Linked DNA regions of Homo sapiens. The protein of the gene in region 1 interacts with the protein of each later gene in a biochemical or structural test. Each region holds a gene or a part of one and is shown on either strand. Other genes may lie near its edges.

Region 1 (3,122 bases):
AGAATTGGAAATCTTTTGGGGGAATAACATTTCCCTAATTGAGATTCAGAGCTAGTGTTGTGAATCGTCAAAACCAATTGCATATTTGCATATATTTATCTGTTAATGCTGATTTGGAATGAGATGTGACACAGTTCATCTTTGAACATGTCTTCACACAGATAGGTACCTTCCCAACACTACTATGTCCATGAGCATTTTTTTTTTTTTTTTGAGACAGGGTCTTGCTCTGTCACCCAGGCTGGAGAGCAGTGGTGTGACCTCAGCTCACTGCAACCTCTGCCTCCCAGGCTCGGATGATGCTCCCACCTCCATCTCCCAAGTAGCTGGGACCACAGGCATGTGCCACCAAGCGAGGCTAATTTTTGTACTTTTTTTTTTTTTGTAGAGACAGGGTTTCACCATGTTGCCCAGGCTGGTCTTGAACTCCTAGGCTGAAGTGATCCTCCCATTTCAGACCCCCAAAGTGCTGGGATTACAAGTGTGAGCCACTGCACCCAGCTCATGAGCATAAGATGTTTAGCTTAGCATATTTATTACATAAAACACATTTATACATTTTTATAAGATTCTATTAGACTCTATTAAATTTTTCTTTAGATAGTTGCCTTTCAACACATTAATCACTTCTCAAATGCAGATCAATGGATTCTGAAATATAAAAATTTCTTTTGGGTTTGCATTGAGGTCCCTAACACACTGCTCAAACTGTAGTTTGGGCTCAGATAATGTATCTGTGGCAAATGTGTGTGGGAATGGAGCTCTTCTTTTTTTAACTTTTAACAACATGGGAAGAGCTTAAAGCAGTAACATTAGTTGTGATTCAAACAATAGTTCTTCTTGAAATCACTTAACACAGTAGGAGTTTCACATAAACACTGTTTTTATCTTGTGGTTTAGGCTGAATTCCTTAAGAAACACTATCAAGTCTGCAGCAAAAGTGAATTTCCAAAACTATTCAGTGTTTAGTAACGGTGGTTCGGGGCAGTTCTCATTCAGAAAAATTTCAATCTTTGTCCTGAGCTCAAAACTTAAATGAAACTTTACCACTACTAAACCATTGAACTGCTGTATTACAGGCCATGTCGGGATATTCAGCTAATATTTCTGACAAAAATTCATGAGAGCTGTTGATAGTGAAGTCCACAAGAGCTAAAGGAAGTTCACTATTGACAATACTGGTTCAATAATGCATGATAGATTCAAATATTTCTCACAAAGTATCTGTTGACTTAAATAATACAATGAATAATCTATAGGCTTTAACACCTTATATTATTACAAGCTTTGTAAGTTGTCCAACTGAGCCATTTTCTATTCCACACTGATATGAGTTAGCTGTGTCCCCACCCAAATCTCATTGAATTGTAGCCCCCATAATCCCCACGTGTCATGGGTAGGACCCAGTGGGAGGTAACTGAATCATGGAGGCAGGATTTTACCATGCTGTTCTCATAATAGTGAGTAAGTCTCATGAGATCTGATGGTTTTATAAAGGGCAGTTCCCCTGCACACACTCTCTTGCTTGCCGCCACCTAAGACTTGCCTTGGCTTCTCCTTTACCTTCCACAACGATTGTGAGGCCTCCCCAACCATGCGGGACTGTGAGTCCATTAAACCTCTTTTTCTTTATAAATTACCCAGTCTCAGGCTTTTCTTTATAGCAGTATGAAAATGGACTAATACACACATATATTTCCACTACCAACAGTCATAACACATCTTAGCAGATTCCACTTCAGGGTGTACTGAATTCGTTTTCTCAACTTTTTGTTTTGAGACAATGTTCTCACTCTGTCATCCAGGCTGGAGTACAGTGGTGCAATCTCAGCTCACTGCAACCTCCACCTCCTGGGTTCAAGCGATTCTCCTGCCTCAGCCTCCTGAGTAGCTGGAATTACCAGTGCATGCCATCATGCCCGGCTAATTTTTGTACTTTTAGTAGAGATGTAGTTTCACCATGTTGGCCAGGCAGGTCTCAAACTCCTGACCTCAGGTGATCTGCCCACCTTGGCCTCCCAAAGTGTTGGGACTATAGGCATGAGCCGCCACACCTGACCAGTTTTCTCAGCTTTGAAAATACTTTTGCCAGTAGTTGTTCCACATAAGACTATTGATAGAGGCCAATTCTTCAGTTACTTCCAACTTGGTACTGGCTCCTCAAATAAAGAGCAATAGCGGAGCAGTGTGCATAACATATGGTGACCCCTGTCATGAGAGTCAGGGGAAACCACTCAAAACCATTTGCCTTTTTAGTCGACTACTGATGTCATTCCTAATGTCAACTCTTTGAGCAACTGTTGTCGTGGAAAGGCCAATAAACAAGTTTACTTTCTCTGAGCATGTTTCTTCAGCTGCAGTAATCAAGCATGATTTAATTAATTCACCATAAGTGACTTTCCTTGCTTGGCTAACAAATGAGCCATCTGAAACTTACTTTGGTTGTAGCTTCATTTTCATTTTTTATTTTTGTGAATAAATTCTGTGATGAGATATTCAATTTTAAATTTTCTAATTTTTCTGACCATTGCTTTCTTGTGAATTAGAAATATCTTGATGAGTGCTAAGATGGGAAGTAACAACATGTATTTTGGTTTTTTTTTACTTTTTGTGGAGATGGGGGGTCTCACTATACCACCCAAGCTGGTCTCCAAATCCTGGGTTCAAGTGATTCTCCCACCTCAGCCACCCAAATCGTTGGGATTACAGGCATGAGCCACTGCACCTGGTTGTATTGTGTTCCTTAGGACAGCTACCATGTCATTGCACTTTGCTGCCTAATTCAGTAACAATTCATACTCCATTGTACCTTAAAAGCACAATGATATTTGAAATCCACTTTTCTTGTATATATTGGTAATAAAAAATAAAATGTTGTAGCATGGGAATACAAGTGGCATTCAAAATGCTGCTGAGTTATAACTGTGTCACTGCAATTTACATTGCACAGAGCGGCAGGGCAAAATGATGAGAATGCCACATATTCTCATCATACGGTCTCTGCAGCAACTACTCAATTCTGCCACAGTAGCACCAAAGTGGCCGTGGACAACTTGCAAATGAATGTGGTTATGTTCCAATAAAACTTCATTTATGGACACTGAAATTCAAATGTCATATAA
Region 2 (7,036 bases), on another chromosome or scaffold:
TGTTGAAAGTCTGTGGGTGCTCCATAAAATGAATATTTAGACTTAGTCATATGGATTTTTAAGAGTTAAACATGGATGACAAGATCTATGAATATATGTAGAAAAATCCTTAGGAATCTACAAAAAAGCTACTAAAACTAATAACTAATGTAGCAAAGTTATAGAAGCCAAGATTAATGTACAAAAATCAGTTGTATTTCTATATACAGTACCAATGAACAATTGGAAATGGAATTTAAAACAGTTTCATGGTCAAGCACAGTGGCTCATATGTGTAAGCCCAGCATACTGGGAGGCCAGAGTGGGTGGATCACTTGAGCCCAGGAGTTCAAGACCAGCCTGGGCAACATGGCAAAACCCTGTCTCTACAAAAAATACAAAAATTAGCTGGGTACGGTGGCTTGTACCTGTAGTCCCAGCTACTTGGGAGGCTGAGGTGGTAGGATCAATTGAGCCTAGGAGGTCAAGGCTGTAGTGAGCTGTGATTGAGCCACTACACTCCACCCTGGGTGACAAGCAAGATCCTATCTTAAAAAAAATAAAACACAATTTCATTTATAATAGCATAAAACTTGTGTAGAAATCAAGTTAATGGGCCAGGCGCAGTAGCTCATGCCAATAATCCCAGAACTCTGTCAGGCTGAGATGGGCAGATCACTTGAGGTCAGGAGTTTGAGACCAGCCTGGCCAACATGGTGAAACCCTGTCTCTACTAAAAAATACAAAAAATAAAAATTAAAATTAGCCAGGCGTGGTCACGCACGCCTATAATTCCAGCAACATGGGAGGCTGAGGCAGGAGAATTGCTTGAACCTGGGAAACGGAGGTTTCAGTAAGCGGAGATCATGCCCCTACACTCCAGCTGAGGCGACAGAGCGAGACTCAGTCTCAGAAAAAGAAATAAAGAAATAAAATTAATGAAAGAATCATAAGAAGTACACTGAAAACTTTAAAACATTGCTGAAAGAAATTAAGGCAGCCGGGCGTAGTGGTTCACGCCTGTAATATCAGCACCCTGAGAGGGCGAGACAGGCAGATCACTTGAGGCCAGGAGTTAGCGACCAGCCTAGCCGACATGGCAAAACCCCATCTCTACTAAAAATACAAAAATTGCCTGGGCGTGGTGGTGCGCACCTGTAGTCCCAGCTAAGGCATGAGAATCACTTGAACATGGGAGGCAGAGGTTGCAGTGAGCCAAGATCGTGCCACTGCACTCCAGCTTGGGTGCTAGAGCGAGACTCTGTCTGAAAAAAAAGAACTTAAAAAAGGCGTAAATTAATGGAGAAATGTGCTATGTTTATGCGTTGGAAGACTTAATATTGTAAGATGTCAGTTCTCCCCAGACTGCTCAATAGATTCAACACAATCCCAATCAGAATCTCAGCAGGCTTTTTGTAAAATTCGACAAGCTGATTGTAAAATGTACATGGAAAAGCAAAAGTAGAGAATAGCAAAACAATTTTGAAACAGAAGAACAAAGTTGGAGAACTCACTGTCTGATTTTAGAACTTACTAGAAAGCTACTATAATCAAGACAGTTTGCCTACTAGCAGACAGATAGGCAAATAAATAATGGAACAGAATAGAGTCCAGAAATAGATGAATAAATACATGGTCAACTGATTTTCAATAAAGGGGTCAAGGTAATGCAAAGGAGAAAGAATTCTCAACCAATGATGCTGGAAGAGTCAGACGTTCATATGTAAAAAAGCAAACCTTGTTCGGGAGCTGTAGCTCACGCCTGTAATCCTAGCACTTTGGGAGGCCGAGGCGTGTGGATCACCTGAGGTCAAGAGTTCGAGACTAGACTGGCCAAAATGGTGAAGACCCTTCTCTACTAAAAATATTAAAAAATTAGCCGGGCGTAGTGGCACATGCCTGTAGTCCCAGCTACTTAGGAGGCAGAGAGGTAGGAGAATTGCTTGAACCAAGGAGGTGGAGGTTGCCGTAAGCCAAGACTGTGCCCATTGCACTCCAGCCTGGGTGACAAGAGCAAAACTCCGTCTCAAAAGGAAAAACAACAACAAAAAGCAAACCTTGATTCATATCTTGTACCATATAAAAATTTAACTTGAAATGACTCAGAGACCTAAATATGAAGCCTAAAACTAGAAAACTTTTAGAAGAAAACAGGGAAAAATATTTGGGACCTGGGATTAGGCAAAGATTTCTCAACTAGGACATAAAAAATTTTTTGGGTGCGGTGCTTACGCCTGTAATCCCAGCACTTTGGGAGGCCAAGCCAGGAGGATCACTTGAGCCCAGAAGTTCGAGGCCAGCCTGGGCAACATAAGGAGACCCCATCTCTACAAAAAATTTAGAAATTAGCTGGGTGTGGTGGCACATGCCTGTGGTCCCAGCTACTCAGGAGGCTGAAGCTGGAGGATTGCTTAAGCCCAGGAGGTTGAGCCTGCAGTGAACCACGATTGCACCACTGCACTCGAACCAGTGCAACAGAGTGAGACCCTATCTCAACAACCCAAAATTATACTGCCACATTGCACATAATGCAATATTATTCAGCAGTAAGAAAAGAAGCAACTACTGATACACACAAGAACATGGATGAATCTCAAGAGCAGTGTACTGATGAAAGTAGCCAGACACAAAGACTCAAGACCATCTGATTCTATTTATATCGTATTATGGAGAGACAAAACCATAGATCAGTGGCTACTTGGGGTAGGTATGAGGGGTTGACTGCGGAGGAGCCTGGGAGAGCTTTCTGGGTTAATGGAAATGTTTTATATCTTACTGTGGGGGTTATACAACTGTACATTTGCCAAAACTCATTTAACTGTACACTTGAGTGGGTTTTATTATATGCAACTATACCTAACTTTGGGGGGAAAATGTCTGGAAGATACTGGTGTGTCTGAGACTGAGGTCAGAAAGATGAGTAGAAGGAATTTTATTTTGTGTTGTCTGGTTAGTGCTTTTCCCCTTATTGTGGATGTTTACCAAATATCCCCACTATTCCATCTTCCAGTTGGAAGTTCATAAGCAAATGTACAGTTAGTGTCCCATTGAGCCAGATTGAGTTTGACAGCAAAGATTGGAAGTTAATGGTGGGCTAAAATTGACTCTAAGAAAAAGTGATCAGAGCTAGGTGGGACTTTCTCATCAATGGCGCCGACTTTTTTTTTGCCAGTCACAGTGGTTTGGGCTCTCAAACGGTCATTTGACATACCTTTATGTGTAAACATAATGAGCCAGTGTTGAGTTTGGGGTTGGTGAGGGTTGTGCACTATTGGATTTTTAAGTGAGCATTAGTTTGTTTAATGAAATTGCAAAGGGTGTTTCATATTCCTGGCCCCTGAGCACCAAATGTCCTCAGCACTTCAGTCATTGTGGCAGCCAAGAACCACCCCTGGTCATTTTCAAATACCTTAGGGGTTTCAGGGGAAGGTGTGCCTGGCCTGGCAGATAGTGCACTTATGTAGTTGGAGTCAAGAATGCAGACTTGAGTCAGAAAACCTGTAATCTCTGTCTCCTACTGGCTTTGCAGTGTTGAGTGTAACCACCCCTTTGAGTCTGGGTGTCCTTGTCTGCCAGAGGATGGTTGGACTAGATACCCTCTCATGGCAATCGTTTTTGATTCTGCAGTTTAGTGTAGTACAGTGTCAAGACTTCTGTCACTGGCCAGGCATAGTGACTCATGTCTGTAATCCCAGCACTTTTGGGAGGCTGAGGTGGGAGGATCAGTTGAGCCCAGGAGTTCAAGGCCAGCCTGGGCAACATGTGAGGCCTTGTCTCTACAAAAAATGAACAAAATTAGCTGTGTCTGGTGGTGCATGCCTCTAACCCCAGCTACTTGAGAGGCTGAGGTGGAAGGATCACTTGAGACCAGGAGGTGGAGGCTGCACTGAGCTGTGGTTGCACCACTGCACTCCAGCCTGGGCAACAGAGCAAGATCCTGTCTTTAAAACAAAAAACAAACAAAAAAAACCTCTGTCACTGACCAGGGATCTAATGTATTTGCTGTACTGCTCACAAATGCTTATGTGGCTCAACTTTGGTATGTTACAGGTTCAGCTTGTTGGTTTAGATGAGGAGAGTTCAGAGTTTATTTGCAGAAACACCTTTGACCACCCATACCCCACCACAAAGCTCATGTGGATCCCTGACACAAAAGGCGTCTATCCAGACCTACTGGCAACAAGCGGTGACTATCTCCGTGTGTGGAGGGTAAGCGGATGCTTTATTAGCAGCCAGACAAGTGGGCTTTCTCAGCCTCAGCTGTTAGCAGTGAAAAGTCACAGAACAGACAGGGGTCAGAGGCAGCGAGTGTCATTGCAGCACAGGAGAAGCAAGCGAAGCTTAAATGGACTGGCCTCGTTTGGCTCAGCAGATTTTCTAGTATATCAAGTCAAGATTCCATGAAGTCTGGCTGCTGGCTGCAGTCAGCTCAGTCAACCCGAGGTGATGATGACGGCCTTCAGTGGAGGTGGGAATACTTGGGAACTCATATTCTGTTTGCAGCCAAGGTATTTTTGAGTAAACTAAATGAAATACCAGGCCATTGATTCTGATAAAGTGTGTGAGTGGATCTTGGAGGCTTCCCTCCACCCTCAGCTGAGCTCATCAGCAGCAGCGTCCTCTGTAGCATGGGCGTGGCCTTAGTACACCTGTGCAGAGGTTCCAGGCTGGGCAAAGTGAGAAGACCTCTCCTCTAGGAAGGTGCAGGGATGAAAATGTAGAAAACAAAGCTGGGCAGAGGAGAAAGTATGGGAAAAAGTAGCATTCAGGGAGTCCTGGGTTTATTACTGTTTTTGATAAAAATGTTTTCCCCTCATGTCTTATGTTTGCTAAGATATTTTCTAAACAGGGATTTTTTAAAAGACTTTTTATGAGGATAAGACTGGCTGATTTTTTTTAAAATTCTTGTTCCTTCAGGTTGGTGAAACAGAGACCAGGCTGGAGTGTTTGCTAAACAATAATAAGAACTCTGATTTCTGTGCTCCCCTGACCTCCTTTGACTGGAATGAGGTGGATCCTTATCTTTTAGGTAAGGGAGTTAGGGAGTATGTATTTCAGCTGGAAGAAGCCAAAATAAATTTTCTCAGATGTCACACTGGGCCATACATCCTAGAACAAGGCTCAGTGGGAAGTAGGCTAGGCGTGGAATGTGGTTATTTATTAATTCCTTTGTGTGGGTGAGCTTTCCGTGTGTATAGATCTTGTCTCTCCAGTTAGAATCTAAGGTCCTACGGTGAGGACTGAAGACTTGACTGCCTCGGTGGCTCTGCCGGTAGCCCCCACCTTGTTTTCTGTAGTCTTTATGGTATGCTGCTCCCTGGGCTGAGCAGATGAGTAAACACAAGAGGGAAGCTTGCATGAGAACCTTGGTCCCGTCAGCCCTGACTTGCACTGGTTGTTTGCAGGTACCTCAAGCATTGATACGACATGCACCATCTGGGGGCTGGAGACAGGGCAGGTGTTAGGGCGAGTGAATCTCGTGTCTGGCCACGTGAAGACCCAGCTGATCGCCCATGACAAAGAGGTAAGATGCTTTTCCATTTCGTCTTTCCTCAAATGCTTCCTGTGCCTTCCGCACAGGAAGAGGTCAGCTTGTTCTCTCATTGTTCTGCAATTTATGTAGAAAATCATAACATAACATCTTCTTGTCTAAATTGACAATAGTAATGTATCAAAAACGGGAAAACAACACTATTGTAAACTAATGCTTTTTTTTGGCTAATGTAAATGACCTATTCTACGGTCTGTCATTGTTCTTTTCATGCCAGAGGTTGCTTTTTTTAAATAACAAAGTCTCTTATAGAGGAGCTGGGAACTGATGTGATTAAAAAATAACTTTAGAGTAATACTTATCTTGAAACAGATTAGATTTGGGGAGGAAAGAAGGGAGACAGGAAGAGAAAAAATTTTCTGAGAGACAAACGTAATTATTCATTTTTCTCTATAAATGTTTTACCAAATCCTAGTATGTTCACTTAATCTTTATACTTTCATTACTGTTGGCAGTGGAGGCAATGGAATATATTTTATTTTGATGGCGATGCTTCTGTGTTTATTGGGAAAACTGAGAAGAGCTATTTGTGATTGCTTTTTTTTTTTTTTTTTTTTTTTTTTTTGAGACAAAGTTTTCCTCTTGTTGCCCAGGCTGGAGTGCAATGGCGCAATCTGGGCTCACTGCATCCTCTGCCTTCTGGGTTCAAGCAATTCTCCTGCCTCAGCTTCCGGAGTAGCTGAGATTACAGGTGCCCGCAACCACCCCTGGCTAATTTTTGTATTTTTTAGCAGAGACAGGGTTTCACCATGTTGGCCAGGATTGTCTCGAACTCTCCTGACCTCAGGTGATCCACCCACCTTGGCCTCCCAAAGTGCTGGGATTACAGGCGTGAGCCACTGCGCCCGGCCAATTGCATTTTAATCAAAGCATTCTTCTCAGTGATTTTGGAAAATCCCCATAAGTCTTTTCCTCCTACAGCCATTGCATGCTCCTGGTACTCTCATCTCCTGTGGGTACTATTTCCTGTTCTTTTCTACCTTACCCTGCACAGCTAGGGGTATTAATATCTATACAGATAAAAGGAATGCCTTGATCTTAGGTCAGAAACTTGAGGTTGTCAACAGCATAGGAAGATGTGACCCAGGTTATCATTCTTAGTAAGGGGTTGTCTTTGGCTTTCTGTACTCCTGAAGGTAAGCCCTGTTACAAGACTTCTAGAGTTGACTGCTGCTAAACCAGGGGTCAAATGAAGAGTTTGTCCCACAGAGAGGACCAGTAAGGAACTTCTGGAAACCCTCTTGGCATCAAGTTGAACAAGCGGCTACATTTTAGTTATATGACAACTTAGCCTGCTGTTGTCTGTTAGGTCCAACCCAGAAAATGGGAACTACTCTTAAGTATTTGAACTGCAGGGATTTAATCCAGGGGCTGCTTATACAGAAGATGGTAAAGCTGAGAAGCCACATAGGTAGCAGTGAGGTCATCCATAGAATGGGAGCAGCAGGAAGCTGCAGCTGCCTATAGGCCAGAGGGACCATGGGAGGAGGCAGGGTTCCTGGAGCC
Region 3 (7,036 bases), on another chromosome or scaffold:
TCACATACTTCACTGGCTGATTAGTCAGGGATGGAGACAAACCAAATACACCACTCTCTCTTTTAATATTAACATATACAAGCAGCAGAAAGAGCCAACTGCTCTCTGCTGTTCCCTGAGGGAAAGCCGGAGCACAAAGCTGTTCCTCTGGCCTTCCTCCAACTGCCGGGCCTGCTTAGCTCCTCCCTAGGCAGAAGCTTTGTTCCAGCCCCACTTCCACATCCCAACTCCACAGTCAGGATGGGAGGCACATGGTTGCTAGCAGGGGAAAGAATACTGTAGTTCCAGCCTCTGCTCCTTTCAGTCTCAGCCTGGATGGTGGTCACTCATCCCTCTGCAGCTAGTTCCTCACTTGTCCCAGCCCAGGAGCCAGGAGGGCACTCAATCACACCCAAAGGAGCAGGCAGTGTGACTTCAGTCATCTTCAGATGACTCCTCTTCTGCCTCTTTTAGCCACTGGATGAACCTCTGCAGCTGTAAAGAAGCAGAGGAGAGATCGGCTGGGGGAGGTGCACATAACTCTCCTGCTCCCCTCGGCAGATAAACAGCTCTAACAACCAGAGCCCCAGAAACCAACCACCCTAGAGTCTAGGGGCCAGGACCTGGGAATGAGATAACCATCTTGGCGAGAGGAGGACAGCCTGACGCACCTGTTGATTCTTGCGCAACTGCTGGCCCTTGTCAGTTGTATCTCTTTGGCTGAACCAGCTCAGAATTGTTTCCTCAGCCAGGATCTCCAGCTGGTAGAAAGCCATCAGTACCTGCAAAAGGCCAATAAAGGGGACCTCAGGGGCCTTGGAAAGTCCAGCAGGATACTCTACCAGGCCCTCAGATCCCTCTATGCACTGAGTAGCCTCCTCCAAAACGGACAAGAGTGAGCTGTTCGCTCTGCTCCTGGGGCAGGTCTAACTTCTGGAACTATTGCTGGGGAGAGCTTTGCACATTTCCAGACCACCCCCCAGATGGCTACCTTATTAGTCCGGCTCCAAGCTGTACTATTCTAGCAATAAGCATATTGGGAGTGGATGGTCCATACTGGATTCACATTAGCTTCTATTTTATGTCTCCCAAGGGGGTCACCAACCCTCGTTTGAAAGCAAGTGCAGAAGAATGGGGCTTGAGGTCATATTCACCTTGGCCATGGAAATACCAAGAGCTTCATGCTCTAGGAAGAAGTCCTCAATGGCTGCTAACGCTTCCAAATGGTCGGCTGCGCGCTTTATGTAGTTCCTAAAAACAGGGCTCCAGGCCTTTAGCAGCTATGGAAGAAAGAAGGGAGCTGCAGTATATTCCTAAGCATTCACCTATACCTGGACATCCAAGCAAATCCATACTGATGACATGGGTGGACAAAAGGGAGATGATACAGGTTCTGTGGAATTATGTCAGAGGGACTTGGGAGTTGTTGACAGGGTTTGGGAAAAAGAGATTCCTTAGGGAAGGTGAAAGGGGATCAGATGCTATAGGCTGCCTCAAAATACCTATTCCCACCCCAGAGGCTGATCTTGTGTTGGGTCAAATTGCTGCCATAGAGTCTGAATGTCCAGGTCCATTCTGAATATACCTTTGTGGGCCTAGGATGGTATGAAATCCTGGAGTCTCAAAGGCCAGTCAGTATTGAACTCAATCTGACCCCTCTGAACCAGCCAAGGCTGCTCTAGAGCCCAACCAGCTTCCAGAGGCAAGGAAAAAGGAACCAGAAGTGACATACACCCAATATAACAAGACAGTCTACTCCTGATTTCCTTTGCCTGTACCCAATCCCTTGTACTCAGCTCCAATCTTTGCTCACAGGAAGCAGCAGGGCACAGTAGCGGCTTGAGTCAAGCGGGGAATCCATCTGTTGCAGGGGGAACTCCAGGACCACGTGGCTCAGTACCTGCATCACCTCCTTTAGACTTATGTTATAGGCATACCTGTGGGGAGACTGGGGTGACACCAGGGCCTTCACTGGCCTTTCAGCAGGCTTAGAACTATGACTTTGATAGACATTGGAGAGGAATCTGGATGGAACAATATGGAAGGGGAGGGTTTAGGAAGGAGAAAGTCTATGCTGAGGCTAGAACTTAATAATGCTCTCCTTGCTCCAAATACTACTGGTCTTTCCATTTGGGATGTCGAAGGAATAGGTTCCTATTTGGAGACAAAACACTTACGAGAAAGCCTCTACCTTCCCGGGATCACCCCGAGGAGAACAGGGAGGGGCTGCTCTTACTTGAGAGAGTTGATTTCCAGGACGAGATTGTCACAAGAAATGTTCTCCTCTTTGCCCCGCTGTAGTGTTCCTAAAACTTCATTCTGGAACACTGAAATCAAAGCAAGGATAAGTTCATGGGCCAACATCATTCAGAATGCTCTAAGTCATCTAGTCTTGACTCGATACCAAACCCTTTCTGAGGAACGTAAGCCTCTGGCTAGTTGATCCAGGCAGAGAATAAACTGGTCCAGCGCATTTCTCCCCTGCCACTCACCTTTGATGTCATCCATCTGAGGGGAGCCTCCCCGGCTGTCCGGCTCCTCAGAATCCATACTTTGCTCACTTTCACTTTCACTCTCTTCTTCCATGTTGATCTTGAGTCCTGAGAAGCCATAATGGGTGAGGAAAAAGAAAAAAAGAGTCATTGACAGAGAGCAATATACCTGCCCTGTCTGCCTGAATAAAGGAGTGAATAAGTAATGTGACTCTGAAGTATTCATTATCCTTCAAAATATTCCGATTCAGGAGGAGAAGGGCAGGCATCAGGCCTAGCTCACCCCACAGATTCTGCTGCAGTTCCTCCTCTTCCTCCATGTTCATGCCTGCAGCTTTCCAGAGGTAGCCCTTGCCAGCAGCTCCTACTTCTGCTGGATTGTAACCTGGAAAAGGCAATGATCTATAGAGAGGGCCCGGCGGAAGCACCAATCCCTCCAGGAGGAAACACTGGTTCTTCTATGAGGCAGCGAGACACACAGATGCCCCACACCTGTTGAGTCTCACACCTTTCATCTTCACTTTGTCCTTTTCTTGGTCAGCCCCAGAATCATCACTGAACTCGCCATCATCTTCATCTTCCTCTGCATCTGGAGGGTGCAAAGAGATCACCGAGCCCTCAGGCAGCGTGATATTTGGGCCCACGACCACCTAAGGGGAAAAAAAACACAGAACCATTAGGGTGTGGAGGAAAAGTGCATCCTGATAATGAGAGCAACTTTTTTAGACAGGATTATGGGTGGAAATAATGCCCCTTCTGGCTCAGTGTGACTGCCATGCAATTCAGGGCCTGTGCACAGTATAGATCAGGTCTCACCTGGGAAGTGAGGACAGAGCGTGGTTTCAGTGTCACTCGTTCCTTGACCTCAGCATTGTCACAAAGCAGAGACTGATGGATCTGTGCTCCAGCCGCCACTCGAACACCCTGCCACAGGTAGGTCTGGTCCAGCACCACGTTATCACCTGGCTCAGGATGGGAAGACCTCTGGGTAACTCAGGGTTCCAACCGCAGAGCAGAGCCCTTCATAGAGGACAGGGCTGACTGACACCAGCACAGCTCCCACCTAGCTCTCATTCCCCATCCCGCAAGTCACCAGAAACACCCACTCACCCCCTAAGCCCAGGCCTGAGAAGATACTTCACCAAGTTTACAACAATTATAGACTACACACAGAGCTTAAGAACCCGAGAACCTTCAGGATTTCTGGGGACCCTCTGAACTCAAAAAACCTTATTAGAATCATATCCACGCCTACAAGCAGAACCAAATAATTCCACCTCTTCTGGTACATTTTAGAAACCAAGTCTTTTTTTTCTTTTGAGACACGGTCTCATTCCATCACCCAGGCTGGAGTGCAGTAGTATGATCATGACTCACTGCACCCTCGACCTCTGGGCTCAGGTAATCCTCCTGCCTCAGCCTCCCGAATAGCTGAGATTACAGGCACGCGCCATCATGCCCAGCTAATTTTTGTATCATTTGTGGAGAAGGGGTGTCGCTATGTTGCCCAGGCTGGTCTTGAACTCCTGGGCTCAAGCGATCCTCCCACCATGGCTTCCCAGTGTGCTAGGATTACAAGCATGAGCCACCACGCTCAGCCCCTAGAATCTGAGCCTTACTGTTGTTCTTGGAAAGGGGCAGTACTATTAGACGCATCACACTCCTGCAACCAAAATGAGATACCAAGAGGCCAACCAGGCAGTTATGGTAGACTCAAAAGAACACTGGACTTACATTCAGAATACCCAGATTCAGGTCCCACCATTATTACCAATGACCTTGGGCAAGAAAATCTTGTTGAGCCTGTTTATTTGTAAATTATGAAGATTAAATGTAACAATGTATATAAAAGCCCTTTGTAAACTGTAATGTGCTAAATAGATGTTGTTACTGCATGTTAATTATCTACTTGCTCCTGAATGTGACTACAGGGTACCCTGGAATGTGAAGAGTCATCCAATGAGAGGCCCACAGGCTACAAATTAAGGTATCGCTGTTTTCAAATCCCTGTTTCCTCCTTTCCTGAGGTAGCCGCTCTATAGTTCCTTATTCCCAGGGACTGTCCCTTGTGTAGCCATCCCTTGTGTTTCTGGAGACGTGGCCCCCCCAGGTTCCTGTTCCTAGGATAGTTGGCTTGATTCCCCACCTGTGCTCACCAATGTGGCAGCCGGGGCCAATGACACTGTTGGTGATAAAGCAATTGCTGCCAATGACAGTGCCAGAGCCCAGGAGCACATTTTCCTCTAGGATGCTGCCATGGCCCAGGCTGACCTCAGGCCCTCGGTAGATGTTGTGCCGGGAATGAGTGCAGCTCTGGGTGGTGCTGTCAGTGAAGTTCGCCTCTGGGGTGAGAGGGTAGACCCATCGGCGGATGACGTCAGCACAGACAGCTGAGTACATGTGTAGGTTGGAGACACGGGCACCATATTCCTTAGCTGTTACGTGCATGTGGATCTGGTTCCCTAGGATCTGAATGAGAAGGAAAGGGAGGTCACCTAAGCAAGAAAGACAGGAAGAATGCCCCCAAGTACAACTTTTCTAATCCTTTTAAGTTCCCCTCTGCCTCTCACTGCCACAAAGATTCTTCTTTGTGTACTGTTCCTCCTGTCCCCTGCTTTTCCTCCCTCCTAAGCCTCAATAAAATACAAAAAAGATCAAAAGTTACCAGCATGAGATACAATCATAGCCTTCTCCTCTCTCCTAAAGAGGCATTGGAAGACTTTTCTCACCTCCTCATTCACTAAGAGACCTCGCACAAAGTCATCTCGAGTTTGGTAGTCAAAGTTGTCTGTAAAGAGTTGTGCCACCTGTGGAAGGGAAGTGGAGTGGGCTAGAATTAAGTACTATTCTTTTTTTTTTTTTTTTGAGACAAGTCTAGCTCTGTTGCCCAGGCTGGAGTGCAGTTGCATGATCTCGGCTCACTGCAACCTCCACCTCCTGGGTTAAAGTGATTCTTGTGCCTCAGCCTCCCAAGTAGCTGGGATTACAAGCGTCCGCCACCACGCCCAGCTAATTTTTGTATTTTTATTTTTTAGTAGAGATGGGATTTCACTGTGTTGGTCAGGCTGGTCTTGAACTCCTGACCTCATGATCCACTCACCTCGGCCTCCCAAAGTGCTGGGATTACAAGCGTGAGCCACCACGCTTGGCCAGGATTAAGTACTATTCTCTAGGAGCACAGATAATCCCCCAGAGACCTAGCAAACCCTATGACAGCTGAACATGGACCAGAATTCCAAAGAGACTCCCAGTGGGATACTGGAGACAAGATCTTTGCTTTACAATAGATTCTAAAAAAAAAAAAAAGGCCAGGTGCAGTGGCTCATGCCCGTAATGCCAGCACTTTGGGAGGCCGAGGCAGGCAGATCACCTGAGGTTGGGAGTTCGAGACCAGCCTGACCAACATGGTAAAACCTCGTCTCTACTAAAAATACAAAAATTAGCTGGGTGTGGTGGCACATGCCTGCAATCCCAGCTATTTGGGAGGCTGAGGCAGGGGAATTGCTTGAACCTGGGAGGTGGAGGTTGCAGTGAGCTGAGATCGCACCATTGCATCCAGCCTGGGCAACAAGAGTGAAACTCCGACTCAAAAAAAAAAAAAAAAAAAAAAAAAAAATGCTGGGTGCAGAGGCTCACACCTGTGATTGCAGCACTTTGGGAGGCCAAGGCGGGAGGATCACCTGAGGTCAGGAGTTAGAGACCAGCCTGGCCAATATGGTGAAACCCCATCTCTACTGAAAAATACAAAAAATAGCCGGATGTGGTGGTGCGTACCTGTAGTCCCAGCTACTTGAGAGGCTGAGGCAGGAGAATCACTGGAACCCAGGAGGTGGAGGCTGCAGTAAGCTGAGATCATGCCACTGCACTCCAGCCTGGGCGACAGAGCGAGGCTCCATCTCAAAACAACAATAACAACAACAACAACAAAAAAAACTGGTGGCTCATGCCTGTAATCCCAGCATTTTGGAAGGCTGAGGTGGTCAGATTGCTTGAGCTCAGGAGTTCGTGACCAGGCCGGACAACATGGCAAAACCCCGTCTCTACAAAAAAATACAAAAATTAGTGGTAGTGCATGCCTGTGGTTCCATCTACTCAGGAGGCTGAGGCAGGAGGTTCCCTTGAACCTGGGAGGCTGAGGCTGCAGTGAGCAGTCATGGTGCCACTGTGCTCCAGCCTGGGCCACAGAGCGAGACCCTGTCTCAAAAAATATATATAAATAAAAATGAAAATAAGGCCAGGTGTGGTGGCTCATGCCTGTAATCCCAGCACTTTGGGAGGCTGAGACAGGTAGATCACTTGAGACCAGGAGTTCGAGACCAGCCTGGCCAACATGGTGAAACCCCATCTCTACTAAAAATACAAAAATTAGCCAGGCATGGTGGTGTGCCTGTAATCCCTGCTACTCAGGAGGCTGAGGCAGGAGAATCACTTGAACCTAGGAGGCAGAGTCTGCAGTGAGCTGGGATCACACCACTGCACTCCAGCCTGGGCAACAGAGCGAGACTCTGTCTCAAAAAATAAAAGTAAAAATAATGAAAATAAACAGGGAGAAGAAATATACCCTG

The links. The genes of interacting proteins can lie anywhere in the genome.
Region 2: the proteins of DYRK1A (region 1) and DCAF7 form a complex in vitro, tested with the Homo sapiens proteins (2 studies listed by BioGRID).
Region 3: of the proteins of DYRK1A (region 1) and EIF2B5, one has a biochemical effect on the other in vitro, tested with the Homo sapiens proteins (one study listed by BioGRID).

The regions. Positions count from the first base shown.
Region 1 is NC_000021.9:37,523,755-37,526,876, reverse strand, and holds the end of DYRK1A (dual specificity tyrosine-phosphorylation-regulated kinase 1A), read right to left. Parts: 3' UTR 519-3,122; downstream 1-518. UniProt on the Homo sapiens protein: Dual-specificity kinase which possesses both serine/threonine and tyrosine kinase activities. Exhibits a substrate preference for proline at position P+1 and arginine at position P-3.
Region 2 is NC_000017.11:63,574,441-63,581,476, forward strand, and holds part of DCAF7 (DDB1- and CUL4-associated factor 7), read left to right. Parts: intron 1-4,029; coding exon 4,030-4,188; intron 4,189-4,896; coding exon 4,897-5,008; intron 5,009-5,384; coding exon 5,385-5,503; intron 5,504-7,036. UniProt on the Homo sapiens protein: Involved in craniofacial development. Acts upstream of the EDN1 pathway and is required for formation of the upper jaw equivalent, the palatoquadrate. The activity required for EDN1 pathway function differs between the first and second arches.
Region 3 is NC_000003.12:184,138,322-184,145,357, reverse strand, and holds the end of EIF2B5 (translation initiation factor eIF2B subunit epsilon), read right to left. Parts: intron 6,463-7,036; exon of another isoform or gene 6,434-6,462; coding exon of another isoform or gene 6,419-6,433; intron 5,279-6,418; coding exon 5,201-5,278; exon of another isoform or gene 5,143-5,200; coding exon of another isoform or gene 5,137-5,142; intron 4,941-5,136; coding exon 4,628-4,940; intron 3,434-4,627; coding exon 3,288-3,433; intron 3,122-3,287; coding exon 2,980-3,121; coding exon of another isoform or gene 2,964-2,979; intron 2,857-2,963; coding exon 2,755-2,856; intron 2,580-2,754; coding exon 2,472-2,579; intron 2,307-2,471; coding exon 2,216-2,306; intron 1,917-2,215; coding exon 1,793-1,916; intron 1,260-1,792; coding exon 1,134-1,259; intron 762-1,133; coding exon 651-761; intron 475-650; coding exon 415-474; 3' UTR 47-414; downstream 1-46. UniProt on the Homo sapiens protein: Acts as a component of the translation initiation factor 2B (eIF2B) complex, which catalyzes the exchange of GDP for GTP on eukaryotic initiation factor 2 (eIF2) gamma subunit.